Linked DNA regions of Homo sapiens. The protein of the gene in region 1 interacts with the protein of each later gene in a biochemical or structural test. Each region holds a gene or a part of one and is shown in the gene's direction. Other genes may lie near its edges.

The links.
Region 2: of the proteins of STK39 (region 1) and MBP, one has a biochemical effect on the other in vitro, tested with the Homo sapiens proteins (one study listed by BioGRID).

The regions. Positions count from the first base shown.
Region 1 is NC_000002.12:168,139,371-168,143,203, reverse strand, and holds part of STK39 (STE20/SPS1-related proline-alanine-rich protein kinase), read left to right. Parts: intron 1-2,445; coding exon 2,446-2,555; intron 2,556-2,813; coding exon 2,814-2,915; intron 2,916-3,833. UniProt on the Homo sapiens protein: Effector serine/threonine-protein kinase component of the WNK-SPAK/OSR1 kinase cascade, which is involved in various processes, such as ion transport, response to hypertonic stress and blood pressure.
Region 2 is NC_000018.10:76,978,093-76,980,651, reverse strand, and holds the end of MBP (Golli-MBP), read left to right. Parts: exon of another isoform or gene 1-180; coding exon 181-225; 3' UTR 226-1,819; downstream 1,820-2,559. UniProt on the Homo sapiens protein: The classic group of MBP isoforms (isoform 4-isoform 14) are with PLP the most abundant protein components of the myelin membrane in the CNS. They have a role in both its formation and stabilization.

The DNA.
Region 1 (3,833 bases):
GTTGTTGTTGTTTTTCTTAAAGCAGCATTTACCCATATCCTCCAGTTATTCCTGGAGGCAGGGAGATGGACTGGCTAACTTTATGTGTAGCCTTTGATTCTGTGTTTCTAGAGAAATGTCTGTGGTTTTGTACCCAAGTGAATCTGGCTGCATTCCCTTTGGCTGTATAGATGTACCCCTTAGGAAACAAGGACAGCTTTTCACTGTTACAGTTCTGCCACCTTGTTCTAACTGTCATATGCAAGCTATCTCAATATAATATACCAATTTTTTGTGTATATAACATAAGCACACTATGTACTTTGCTCAAAATGTTCTGTTACTGAGTACATATAATCTGTATACACATCAGCCGTACATAGGAGCAAATTGTATATTTCTTCTGTAGTCATAGAGGGAGTAGATATTAGGATTGTTGTTTTCTGCTCCTGAAATTTTTGTTCTGAGTTTTAAAGACATTTAGCCATCTGTTTATGACTTTAAAGTGAGTGTTCAAAGTGGAGGCTCTGAATGTATGTATCATTACAGATATATTGAAAGGGTATTGTCAATAATAAATGGCTACTATACATCTTTTTCGGCTGTTTTCTAACTTTTTAAAATGTGTAATGTAAGCAGGTAGTATTTTTAAGGAAGTGGAAATATATCTAATGTTAACTATGGATTTTTACCTGGATTATGTCTTTTAGGAAGAGACTTTAGGGTGCAGAGTTGCTTCAATTGCATTTAAAATAATCAATTTTTCCTTAAAGCAGCTTTTACCTGTATCCTTAATTTATAGATGATATGTATTTATTTCATATTATATTATAAAATCATTTTAATAAAAATGAAATGTTGGATTCATCGTTGAACTTCTTTTTAGAAATATAAATTAAGTTGAAATTAGTAGCTTTCAAAGTTTTATCATATATATTTTTTCCAGCAGATATAGTAGATGCTTACAAATATTTTAATTCACCTAACTCTTCTCTAAGAGAATGAATTGTATCTTCTCCCACCCACAGGAGACTGACTGGTTCCAGAGATTTCTTTTCACAAGACTTCAGTTTTCTGGCTGCAGTATAAGAATTAAAAGGGCTTTAGAGTTGGAAACATATATGCATATTAAGTTATTTAGCAGTTTAAACATATATACTTTTATTCAATATGAACATGAGAGTAGCAGTTGGAACAAAGACTCCATTTGTCAATTTTCATTCCTTTTATTTGTAGTTGAAATCCTGTTGGGAGTATGAGTAAATTTAAATATAAATAAAATGCAACATTCAATGTATTTCTACTCAGGAAACCAGTTACAATGTTATTAAGTTACAATTGCATAAACTAACCTTATAGGCCTACAGCAAATGCTAATACATTTTGACCTTGGTTTGTACTTGAGGGTGTTTTTTGGTAATTGCTGTCACCCTGACAGCCAACAAGGGGGACTCGCAAAGGAAAAGCGTATGAGAGCGATTTGCAGGGGCTCAGACTGCACATTGCGCTGTGGTGTTTTGATGTGTTGCCTACCTGTTTTTATTACTACCCACCAGCTCGCTATCAAGTAGTCCTTGACCTGGCTATCATTGATAGGTACACTAGTCTTGAGTAATTGGTACTTTAACTTATCAACTACTTTTAACCACTGTGTAAAAATGAAAGCAAGAATAGTACGTTAATAATTGCCAGGCATTCCCTTCTGTACTGTACATACAAATAGAATTTTTACACATGTGCCTGTATGTATATATAGGTTGAGTATCCCTAAATCAGAATATGTGAAATCTCAAATGTTCCAAATTCTGAAACTTTTTGAATGTGAGGTGACATTCAAAGGAAATGTTCACGGGTACATTTCAGATTTCTGGTTTTCGAATGAGGGGTACTTAACTAGTTTAGTATATAATGCAAGTATTTTAAAATGAGAAAAAATCCAAAATCTAAAACATTTCTGGTCGCAAGCATTTCCGGATGCTCAATCTGTACAGTATGCCTAATTAATTCATCTTCTTATAAAATTAACTTCTATATATAATGAGTTAAAGTTAAGAAAAATATTATTTACTTGTACAATCCATTGCCTCTGTACTTATGAAAATTGTCCAGAAAATCAGTCTTTGCTGACTAAGCTTTTTTGCATATGGACATACTCGGGCATGTTGGCTTTATATATCTTATCTTTATATACCTCAGCTAAAAGCTAACACCCTTTATATTTAATTTGGTATGCTAAGCTTTTGGACCGGCAGGCTTGTGGCCCATTACCAGCGATGGTATTCTCCAAGGTGTAGGGGATAGCAGAGGGCAGGTCTTCCTTTTTTTTCCTGAGAGAGCACCGTAGACATGTTTGGAATAGTTCATCACCACTGTAAAGCTCACAAAGAAGAGACATGCTCAAAAAATCACAATTTATAAGCAATAATGTCTTACATAAAATAAAGGTGATTTTTTTTTCCCTTTCAGATTTTGGGGTAAGTGCGTTCCTAGCAACAGGGGGTGATGTTACCCGAAATAAAGTAAGAAAAACATTCGTTGGCACCCCATGTTGGATGGCTCCTGAAGTCATGGAACAGGTAAAAAAACAAAAAAAGTGACTTTTTGATGGACATAGTACAATCGTACAGATCATTAATATGCTAACATTTCATTTGTATCTAGCATTTTAGTAGAATGCATAATGTAACTAAGATTTAATTCTCAATTGCTAGCTAATTAGCAAACTAACGTGAAAGTTATACATCAACAGCTGTGGATTTCTGACATGACATGGACTTGATGATGTGTAACATGCCTGCTGTATGATTGTGTTTTTTTCCTGCTTTCTTTCTTAGGTGAGAGGCTATGACTTCAAGGCTGACATGTGGAGTTTTGGAATAACTGCCATTGAATTAGCAACAGGAGCAGCGCCTTATCACAAATATCCTCCCATGAAAGTAATTACAATTGGAAATACTACATCGGGGTTGAAATGTGATTGGACGGAATCTGTTTTCTAATTCTCTTCAACATCTTCATTCTTCTCTTAGACCCGAGGAGAATTAATGGAGGAACGCAGCCAAGTTGAACATTGTCTGATTTTCTCAGTGGACAGAATAGGACAAAAGTAGCATAATTCCCAGCTTTGAAGCTTGCTTTATAGTCTCAGCACAGAGTTAAGAAAATAATGTTATCAGATTGGTTGATGGAGGTTGATAGCTATGACAAATGCTGGTCATTACTCTTTTGATAGCAGAACAACGCCAGGTTCCCAGAGAATATCTCAAAATAGATTATAGTGATGTCATCTCTGCAAATGGGTTTCCCAGATTTTCAGAGCTTTTTTTTTTCTTTCTTTTTAAGTGGACTACAACATTTTTACCCCTGCTCTTATAGTGTAATGTTGGCAACTGATCTGATATAAGTGAGCCACAGTGTTTTTAGGATGCTATTTTCACGTTTCTGCTCTTCTTTTAACTGGTTTATACCTCATTATTTCTCTTAGTTCTGAGATAGTGGTATCAGGGCTTATTTACCCAACTGGATTTTGTTTTGAGGCTGAAATAGTTTAGTGAAATTATAATGCTATTTTACATAGAGTATGGTCTATGATTGTTTCATGGTTACTGGAAAAATTTGGGAGGATTTATTTTAAAAACCCAAGAATAAAAAGTGAGTTTTACTGATTAAAAGAAGTAGTATACTCATATTGTAGAAAGTTTGGATGTGCAACTCAGACTAAAGAAGAAAAACAATCATCCGTAATCTCATCAACCAGACAATCTCTACTAAGGTTTCAGTGTAATTCATTTTATTGTTTTTATATATATATATATAAATTTTTTTTAACATAGTTAGGATTTTAGTGTATTTGT
Region 2 (2,559 bases), on another chromosome or scaffold:
TTGCTGAGGGAGGTCGGGAGAAATGGAATGAAAAGACCAGCTCTCCGGGGTGCCATTTCTATTAGCAGATGAGAGAGACACCCAATGGCTCAGCATCCACCCGGGACCACAGAAGAGGGGATGCTGGTGTGGGAGGACCCTGCGGCACTCTCGTCCTAACTCCTCTCTCTTCCTTTTCAGGGAGGAAGAGATAGTCGCTCTGGATCACCCATGGCTAGACGCTGAAAACCCACCTGGTTCCGGAATCCTGTCCTCAGCTTCTTAATATAACTGCCTTAAAACTTTAATCCCACTTGCCCCTGTTACCTAATTAGAGCAGATGACCCCTCCCCTAATGCCTGCGGAGTTGTGCACGTAGTAGGGTCAGGCCACGGCAGCCTACCGGCAATTTCCGGCCAACAGTTAAATGAGAACATGAAAACAGAAAACGGTTAAAACTGTCCCTTTCTGTGTGAAGATCACGTTCCTTCCCCCGCAATGTGCCCCCAGACGCACGTGGGTCTTCAGGGGGCCAGGTGCACAGACGTCCCTCCACGTTCACCCCTCCACCCTTGGACTTTCTTTTCGCCGTGGCTGCGGCACCCTTGCGCTTTTGCTGGTCACTGCCATGGAGGCACACAGCTGCAGAGACAGAGAGGACGTGGGCGGCAGAGAGGACTGTTGACATCCAAGCTTCCTTTGTTTTTTTTTCCTGTCCTTCTCTCACCTCCTAAAGTAGACTTCATTTTTCCTAACAGGATTAGACAGTCAAGGAGTGGCTTACTACATGTGGGAGCTTTTGGTATGTGACATGCGGGCTGGGCAGCTGTTAGAGTCCAACGTGGGGCAGCACAGAGAGGGGGCCACCTCCCCAGGCCGTGGCTGCCCACACACCCCAATTAGCTGAATTCGCGTGTGGCAGAGGGAGGAAAAGGAGGCAAACGTGGGCTGGGCAATGGCCTCACATAGGAAACAGGGTCTTCCTGGAGATTTGGTGATGGAGATGTCAAGCAGGTGGCCTCTGGACGTCACCGTTGCCCTGCATGGTGGCCCCAGAGCAGCCTCTATGAACAACCTCGTTTCCAAACCACAGCCCACAGCCGGAGAGTCCAGGAAGACTTGCGCACTCAGAGCAGAAGGGTAGGAGTCCTCTAGACAGCCTCGCAGCCGCGCCAGTCGCCCATAGACACTGGCTGTGACCGGGCGTGCTGGCAGCGGCAGTGCACAGTGGCCAGCACTAACCCTCCCTGAGAAGATAACCGGCTCATTCACTTCCTCCCAGAAGACGCGTGGTAGCGAGTAGGCACAGGCGTGCACCTGCTCCCGAATTACTCACCGAGACACACGGGCTGAGCAGACGGCCCCGTGGATGGAGACAAAGAGCTCTTCTGACCATATCCTTCTTAACACCCGCTGGCATCTCCTTTCGCGCCTCCCTCCCTAACCTACTGACCCACCTTTTGATTTTAGCGCACCTGTGATTGATAGGCCTTCCAAAGAGTCCCACGCTGGCATCACCCTCCCCGAGGACGGAGATGAGGAGTAGTCAGCGTGATGCCAAAACGCGTCTTCTTAATCCAATTCTAATTCTGAATGTTTCGTGTGGGCTTAATACCATGTCTATTAATATATAGCCTCGATGATGAGAGAGTTACAAAGAACAAAACTCCAGACACAAACCTCCAAATTTTTCAGCAGAAGCACTCTGCGTCGCTGAGCTGAGGTCGGCTCTGCGATCCATACGTGGCCGCACCCACACAGCACGTGCTGTGACGATGGCTGAACGGAAAGTGTACACTGTTCCTGAATATTGAAATAAAACAATAAACTTTTAATGGTATTTGCATGGGTGTCTTCTTTTGTGTTCCGGGCTGTAGCACACAGGCCCACATCAAGCGAGAGCCAGGTGTGCAGAGCAAATGTGACTCGGTGCCTCTGGGTCTCCAGGCAGGGCTGCCTGGCGGTGCCTGTTGGAGGGGGCATCCTCATCAGAGGGTCGATGGCTACTGAAGAAAGTGGAACAGAGGTAGTTGTTAGGGCACTGATTCTCTCACCAGGAAAAAAATATTTAGTGTCTCTGAAGACAAGCTTCCAAGTCTGTCTGTGTTCTGCTGTGTGGCTAGTGTACACACCCTGCAGATGTGAACCCAGGAGTCTTGGACGTGTTCCCCTTGCCACCTTTTTCTCTGAAAGCATGAAAGAGCGTGAAGCAATGTTTTACTTATAGTTACCTTTGGTTACAAGAATTTTTCTTCAAAAAGATAGACGAAAGTCTCTTTTGTTTTTTCTTTTTCTTTTGAGACAGGATCTTACTTTGCCACCCAGGTTGGAGTGCAGTGCTGCAATCTTGGCTCACTGCAGCCTTAACCTCCCAGGCTCAAGCTATCCTCCTGCCAAAGCCTTCCACATAGCTGGGACTACAGGTACACGCCACCACACCCAGCTAAAATTTTTGTATTTTTTGTAGAGACGGGATCTCGCCATGTTGCCCAGGCTGGTCCCATCCTGACCTCAAGCAGATCTGCCCACCTCAGCCTCCCAACGTGCTAGGATTACAGGCGTGAGCCACCGCACCCAGCC